2 separate regions of the Homo sapiens genome follow, and region 2 is linked to region 1. The links come from fine-mapping of genetic effects on plasma protein levels. Region 1 holds a variant in brackets. A gene starts in the other region. All regions are shown on their forward strands.

Region 1 (2,195 bases):
CGAGTCCCTGTGCATGGCAGTTTTGGGGATCTGAATCCGCCTTCTGTCCCACACCCAACTCCTGCTCTGCCTCTGCAGCCACCTGCAGGCTCTCAGCGCACTCCTCAAAATCTATTTCTGCTGTGTTTACCCAACACCACCTGCAGGAAACTCCCTTGAAATTCCCAGGCCTTTCCCAGAGTTCCTCAGTTCCTTTTCTTAAAATTCCTGCTGTCCCCAAAGATTTCCTTTGAAATTTTCCTTAATTCCAGTGTCTTTCCATAGATTACTTCCTTTTTTTATTATTGCTGCTGCACAAATTAAACTTTCCATAGATTTCTGAATCTTTCCCGATATTATAATATCTTATGATCCCAGTCTTTTAACAGATTCCTTTGTATTGCCCAGATTCTCAGCACTTCCCCAGAATTCCATCCAATTAAAATAAAATTCCATTGTCATTTCTATAATTTCTAGTCTTCCCCCCAAAGTTTTCAACTAGCTCCCTAATTCCCAGGATTCTCCTAGAATTCTATTAGGCTTCTCTTTCATTTTAATGAAATTTCATTTTCTTGCCTCCAAATCCCAAGAGTTCAGTTTAATACTAATGAATTTCCGATAGTCTGTGGAATTACTAGCTTTTCTCCAAATTTTCTTTTCTTTTCTTTTCTTTTTTTTTGAGACGGAGTCTCCCTCTGTCACCCAGGCTGGAGTGCAGTGGCACGATCTCGGCTCACTGCAAGCTCCGCCTCCCGGGTTCACGCCATTCTCCTGCCTCAGCCTCCCGAGTAGCTGGGACTACAGGCACCTGCCACCACGCCTGGCTAATTTTTTGTATTTTTAGTAGAGACGGAGTTTCACCGTGTTAGCCAGGATGGTCTCGATCTCCTCACCTCGTGATCCGCCCGCCTCAGCCTCCCAAAGTGCTGGGATTACAGGCGTGAGCCACTGTGCCCAGCCTTTTTTTTTTTTTTTTTTTTTTTTTTTGAGACGGAGTTTCGGTCTCGTTGCCCAGACTGGAGTGCAGTGGCACAACCTCGGCTCACCACAACCTGGGCCTCCCGGATTCAAGCAATTCTCCAGCCTCAGCCTCTCCAGTAGCTGGGATTACAGGCCCCCGCCACCATGCCCAGCTAATTTTTTGTATTTTTAGTAGAGACAGGGTTTCTCCATGTTGGTCAGGCTGGTCTCTAACTCCCGACTTCAGGTGATCCGTCTACCTCGGCCTCCTAAAGTGCTTGGATTACAGGCGTGAGCCACTGTGCCCAGCCAAATTTTACAGCATTGTTTTTTTTTTTTTTCTGGGATTCAAGTCTTTCCCTAAAATTCCTGACATTTCACCTGAATTCTGAGGGTTTTCACTAGAATTTTCTTTAATTTTAATGAAATTACCTTTTCTCTAGAATGCCTAATCTTGATTCAGAATTCCAATTTTTATCCTAAAATTCTCACTGTTTCCCCAGAATTTTCCTAGGATTCCATTTAATTCTCATAGCATTTGTGTCTTTCCTGATTCCCTGCCAAACCTCAGAATCTTTAGTACTTTTCAAGAAATTTAATCTTTTTCCAAGATTGCCCAAGATTCTGAAGGAGAGAAGGGGCCTGGTCCTTCCCCCACATTCCTGGCCACCCCCATAGCCCTGGCGTGGCACCAACCTTGTACCACATGAGGGAGGGCTCTGGGTTGCCCCCGATAGCCAAACACACCAGCCTCACCCGGGTCCCAGCCCGGAGCTTCTGGCCCTCTGGGGGACCCTCAATCCACAGTTTCTGGGCGGGATCTGGCGGGGAGAGGAAGGAAGAATGACTTTTTCTCTGTGCTGGGTCCTGAGGCTTGGGGGCATTGCTGGGCCAGGGCAGGGGCTCACATTTTACGTTCAGGATGAGCGACTTCTTGAAGGTCTCCTTGGTGAAGGCTTCACTGAAGGCCTCACATGTGAGGGTCAGACCGTTGTCCTCC[C/T]GCCGCGCCAGGAATGTCAGGTTGGACATGGAGATGTGACCGCCATGCAGTCCCTGGCAGGGAGTGAGCTTCAGACGTGGGGACTGCAGCACCCCTATCCATCGTGCTAGAGGCCTGAGTCCATCCCAGTCCCCAGCAGGGACACAGGAGACATCTCTACCTCCCCCTCTGTTGGACCCATGGTCCTCAAGGAGAAAGCCCCCCAGGCTGCTGGACCCACCCCTTCCCTATCCACGAGTCATGCCCTCAGCCCCCT
Region 2 (5,494 bases), not on the chromosome of region 1:
GGGTGGGCAGGAGGAGGGCCCAGCCTAACCTCTCTGTGACTCGGTTTCCTCTCCCGCGCTAGGGAGCTCCCTCCTGGGGCTGCCGTGGGGTCAGCAGCAACGTGCAGGTGAAAACACTGTGTGGGCTCCAGGCCGATCAGATGTTATTTATTATTCTGAGCTGTGTTTTGGTGGGAGACTTGGAAGGGCTGGAGGGAGAGTCAGAGTGCTTTGGGCTCCTCTCTTTCCCGATGCTGCTTTGAGAGTTCTCAGAGTAGAACGTCCAGGAATGGGGCCCGGGAAGGAGAAGTCCGTGGCTTGAGACAGGACCAGGTTGGGTGTGGGGGCTTTCTCCATCAGCCCCAGGAGTGGGGGTAGGATGGCCAAGCTTCCCCTGCCCTGCCGTGTGCCCCTCTCCTGCCCTCCTCAGCACCCCCCAACCTCTGCTCGGTGCCTCCCCTCCTCCGACCCCCTCTCATCTCTCCCACACCCTCTAATGGTCTCTTGGGACTGCCCAGAAATCGGCCTCCTCTCCTTGGATACTTGTCCTGGCCTAATGGGGCTGTGACAGTTTTTCTAAGTCCTGCTTATAAATGTGTCACTGTCCATGTCCCTTTGTGCTATCAAAGGAGGCTGCGCAAACCGCGTTTGTCCAAGGGCTGTGTGAAGGCCCCCGCGCGGAGCAGCTGGAACACGGGCTGATGAAATTACGGGGAATTCAAAGCAGCCGGCGTCGCCCGCTGTCTGGCTTCATTACGGGGACTGGCCTCGAAGGGAAGTTTATTCCAATAATTTAGAGGATTAGGATCTGACACCCTTCATTAGCGATTTGACATAAGCAGAAAAGACAGATCCTGCAGAATGGCCGCACAACGGGAAGGGACCAGCTCAGGCGGGGAGAAGGCAGCACCCGCCCGGCTGGGAAGGGGAAGGGTCTGGGTGTGGAAGCGAGGGTCCCGTGGCCGTTTTACAGTCCTGTGAGATGGCGAGCTGTGTTCTTGAAGGGGAAAGTGGACGTGGGGAAGGAGCGGCCTGGGCTCAGGCCTCAGTTTCCTTAGCTGTAAAGCGAGATTACCTTCAGGATCCCTTCCGTATCTGATGCGTGTGGGGGCCACTCCACCTACTGTCCCCGGGACACAGCAGCTCCTCAAGGCCCTTGTGGTTTGGCCTTGGAAAGGTACCTCTCTTTCGGGGCTCTATGTGCCTCCGCCCCCTACCCCCAGGATCGAGTGACCAACTCGAAAACACTCAGACTGCAGGCTGCTCTGTGGCATTTTAGATAGAAGCCATTTGCTGCCAAATGGGGGAGGAATCGCCCCCAGCCCCTGGCAGCTTCTGGCTCTCTTCCCGGCCCCTCCACAAATATAGCCCCTGATGTTTCAAAAATTTCTTGTCCAGTCTGTGAAAACCAGAGTTTGGGCTGTGCCTTGACAGCAGTTCTGGCAGATGGATGGGGGAGGGGTGATTTTAAAAGGCCCCTGCCCACACCCAGCAAGCTGGTGTCCCTGTTTCCTGTACCGTGGTGGGGTAGCTGTGCGACATGGGCAGGTTGCTTAGCCTCTCTGTGCGTCCTTTCCTCCGATCTGAAATGGAGGTGCAGTTTGTTGTGAGGATTAAATGAGATGATGCGTTCAGAGAAGCCACACGTGTGAAGAGCCCAGTGCATCTGGCAGCTGGTACCACCAGGACTGCTCACTCTGTGCGACCTTGGACAAGTCGCTCGCCCTCTTCGACCACAGACCTTCTCCTTTGGGAAGTGGGGGAGGCCAGACAAGGCTGGCAGTCAGAAGGAGCTCACTGAAGAGCAGCCACTGTGGTCGTCAGCGAGGGCAGCTGGACTCCGGCACAATCCTGAGACACTGTGACCGCGGAGGTTTTCTCGGTGTGTCGATGGAAGAGGGAGGAATGTGATCCGTCCCAGCCGCCGGCGGGGCCAGAGCATATCTGGTATGTGTCTCTGGAATGATTTGGGGAAAATTAACTGAAGTTGGAACTTAAGACGCAAACTGCCCTGGACACAGAGATACAGAGCTGTCCGTGCGCACACCCCCCACAAAGGGCCGGGGCCGGGGTGGGAGTCGGCTTACAGGGCACAGCGCGGCGCAGGCCCGCCCTGGAATGGCCGTGAACTTGTTGTTTTTCCACGTCATTTGCTCTCAAATGTACTATCAAGCCGGGCGATGCTAACCCGGTGGCTGCAGGTCCCTCCTCGTAACAAGCGATTGTGTGTTCTTTAGAGGTGGCCAAAGGGGAGGAGGGGGCCCGGCCCCAAGGAGGTGGGGGAAAGGGAAACAAGCCCTCCTTCAGAGTGAGCTTGCGTGTCCTGGAGCCAGCTCCCCGCAAAGCACATGCCATTTCTGGCCCTTGAAGGGGTTAAAGGCCTCCTGGAGTCAAAAACAAGCAGGTGTCCCACCGTGCCAGATACGCTGCCTAAACTGCTTCCAGCTTCTTTTTTTTTTTTTCCCCCCTTCTGCAATAAGTCTGTGATCAGCCACGGGACAGAGGCGCCAGCAGCCTGCCTGTGACAGGCATCAGGTTAGCTGGCTCCCACTCGGGTGGCGCGCCCAGGATATAAATCCGGGCGCGGGCCCCTGCTGTGGCTCCTCTCCCTGCACACTCAGGAGAGGGAGCTTCCTTCTAAAGACCTTTCTTTTATCTGAAGCCGCACAGCCCGGCAGGCTGTGCTGACTTGGTGGAGGCAGCAGCGGCAGAGCAGCCTGAGCAGCAGCCTGAGCAGGAAACCTGCTGGGGTGGGGAGGGCAGGTGTCTGCAGCCCCTGAGAAGAAGGCCCTGGTGGGCCCCAGACCCTGGCATCGTTTCAGGGGAGGTCTCTAGCCGCCCCAGCCTGCACCATGTGGGCCCCAAGGTGTCGCCGGTTCTGGTCTCGCTGGGAGCAGGTGGCAGCGCTGCTGCTGCTGCTGCTACTGCTCGGGGTGCCCCCGCGAAGCCTGGCGCTGCCGCCCATCCGCTATTCCCACGCCGGCATCTGCCCCAACGACATGAATCCCAACCTCTGGGTGGACGCACAGAGCACCTGCAGGCGGGAGTGTGAGACGGACCAGGTGAGTGGGGTCCAGAGACCAGAGATGGACCACGTGAGCCTGTGAGTGACGGGGGTGGGAGCCGTCGGGGAGGGACTGTGTGGGAGTGTGAGGAGGACAACGTGAGTGGGGTCCAGAAGCCACAGTGTGAGGCGGACCAGGTGAGTGGTGTCCGGAAGCAGGAGTGTGAGATGGACCAGGTGAGTGGGATCCAGAAGCCACAGTGTGAGGCAGACCAGGTGAATGGGGTCCAGAAGCCGCAATGTGAGATGGACCAGGTGAGTGGTATCTAGAAGTGGGAGTGTGAGGTTGACCAGGTGAGTGGGGTCCAGAAGCCGGTGTGTGAGGCGGACCAGGTGAGTGGGGTCCAGAAGCCACAGTGTGAGATGGACCAGGTGAGTGGGATCCAGAAGCTGGAGTGTGAGGCGGACCAGGTGAGTGGGATCTAGAAGTGGGAGTATGAGGTGGACCAGGTGAGTGGGGTCCAGAAGCCACAGTGTGAGATGGACCAGGTGAGTGGGATCCAGAAGCTGGAGTGTGAGGCGGACCAGGTGAGTGGGATCTAGAAGTGGGAGTATGAGGTGGACCAGGTGAGTGGGGTCCAGAAGCCACAGTGTGAGATGGACCAGGTGAGTGGGATCCAGAAGCTGGAGTGTGAGGCGGACCAGGTGAGTGGGGTCCAGAAGCCAGAGATGGACCATATGAGCCTGTGAGTGATGGGGGTGGGAGCCACAGGGTGGGGACCATGCAGGAGTGCCCTGCAGGTCCTAGGAAGGTGAAGGAACACAGGCCCCGTTCACCTGGAGAGAAACAGGGCACCATCCTGTCTATTAACACCGAAGCCTGGAAGGAGAGGTGGGAGCGATGTCCCAGTTCATCAGGGACTGGAGCCCGAGGATTCCTCCTTCATGCGTGCTGAGGGCTACTGTGGCCAGCACCGTGCCGGGCACGTCGTGTATGTTGGCATGACATGTCAGCATGGTGGGCATCAGCAGCCCATTCACAGGTGAGAGAGTGGACACAGAGCCAGGCACGGAGGGCACAGTTGTCATGGCCAGTGAGGGAACGATGAGCTTGGAACTCATGTCTAACAAGAAAGCTTTGATTGCATTGGACTCCAGGCCACCTCCTCAGGAGTTTGGACCCTGAGCCTGAGAGAAGACCAGGCTGACGGCAGGCCAAGCAGGAGCAGCTCTGAATGGATCTCTGGTGTCCCTGGGAGGAAGGAGACCACGTTTCAGCCTCCCAGCGTCCTTGGTCCTGCCTTCTGCTCTGTATCAGAGGGCACTGCTGCAGGGCAGGGCCAGTTCTCTTCTAGCTCCCGAGTCATTCCCGAGGGCCATTCCTGCCCACCCCCTCTGGGGCAACAGGCTGTGGGACCTACACCTGCTCCAGGCAGAGCTATTTCCTGCCCAGTCTGGCCAGCTCTGAGGGCAGCACGGAGTCTCCCAAGGCTCCAGATCCAGGCTGGGGCATCCCCAGGGAACACGAGAGACACTGGTTCCCCCATAGATGCCTGGTTACCCACAGGAGAGCAGAGGGCTGACCTGGAGAGGGTGGCCTCAACCTCACAGTGCCCAGGGACAATTCTTAGGCCTCCCAGGACAGATGCTCCCCTTGGGCAATGGTGGTGCCAAGTGAAAGGAAGATAAGAAGTCAGGAGGAGTGGTGGCTGCTCCCATCTGGCCAAGGTCATGCCATTAGTTGGCTACATTTGCAGGCACAGGCTGGCCTGATTAACCAGGTAGGGCTTGGGGATGGTGAGACTCTGGTGGATTTTGTGTGTCTTGGAGAGAAGGCACCTGTGGAAGGCTGGGTATCCAGACAGCCCTTGGGGACATTCTGGCCCCCTTACACAGAAGTGTTCTAAGGACCCCCTGTAGGTTCCCTGTGGCCAGAAGTACCTTCCCTCTGGTGCCCAAGGACCCAGGCTTTCATGGACCTCCAGGTCCTGAATGTCTTAGGGAATGGGATGAGGCTCAGGCCAAGGAGAAGGTTCTCCTGCTCCTACTCCCTCTCCTGCTCTCCATTCCCTGCGGGGTCTCTCTCCCTTAGACCCAGCTCTGAGAGCTGCCCATCCCTGTCCCAAAGCCTCCCCTGGTGTGGCCTAGAAGACTATGCCAAACAAGGGCTGCAAAACAAAGTCCCCATTCTGAGCCGAAACGGGTAGAACAGTAAACAAGTCAAGCAGGCAGGCTCCATGCAGCCAGGGTGGGGGGATATTTTCCCCCTCTTAGCTGATGTGGAATGTCAAAGAGGCTGAAATAAAAGTTGGAATGACAAGAGGCCAGCCCTAGTGGGGAGTAATTCACAGAGTTACTACCTGGTGGAGGATTAGGAGCGTTGCCTGCCTGCCAAGTGGGTACGATGTGTTATTGTCGAAAACACCACGTGAAATCCTTGTTTGTGTCAGCTCCAGGAGCATGTTGCTAATTTCGAGGAATTAAACTAATGCTTTACGTGGCTCCACAGAA

Which allele goes with the higher level. Alleles are on the strand shown, and positions count from the first base shown. The strength of an association depends on the size of the effect and on how common the allele is.
For the plasma level of the protein whose gene starts at base 2,480 in region 2, allele T in region 1 goes with a higher level than allele C (weak association).

The links. A credible set is the group of variants that fine-mapping cannot tell apart. PIP is the chance, under the fine-mapping model, that this variant and not a neighbour inherited with it causes the effect. The UK Biobank Pharma Proteomics Project read protein levels with antibody pairs (Olink). The fine-mapping took linkage between variants from a reference panel, not from the people measured, so its PIPs are less certain.
Region 2: WFIKKN2 starts here. The variant in region 1 is the best candidate, but not a certain one, in a credible set for the plasma level of the WFIKKN2 protein (UK Biobank, PIP 0.79).

The regions. Positions count from the first base shown.
Region 1 is chr19:35,846,406-35,848,600 of GRCh38, forward strand. NPHS1 (NPHS1 adhesion molecule, nephrin) reads right to left here. Exons shown (of 29, transcript NM_004646.4): 10 at 1,848-1,992; 11 at 1,636-1,760. Among named protein-coding and RNA genes, the nearest start is that of NPHS1, 5.0 kb to the right of the region's middle. RefSeq lists a silencer at 1,705-1,880. The variant C/T (reference allele first, on the strand shown) is at 1,940.
Region 2 is chr17:50,833,107-50,838,600 of GRCh38, forward strand. It overlaps WFIKKN2 (WAP, follistatin/kazal, immunoglobulin, kunitz and netrin domain containing 2), which reads left to right and starts at 2,480. Exons shown (of 2, transcript NM_175575.6): 1 at 2,480-3,041. The coding sequence starts at 2,832. RefSeq lists an enhancer at 1-192.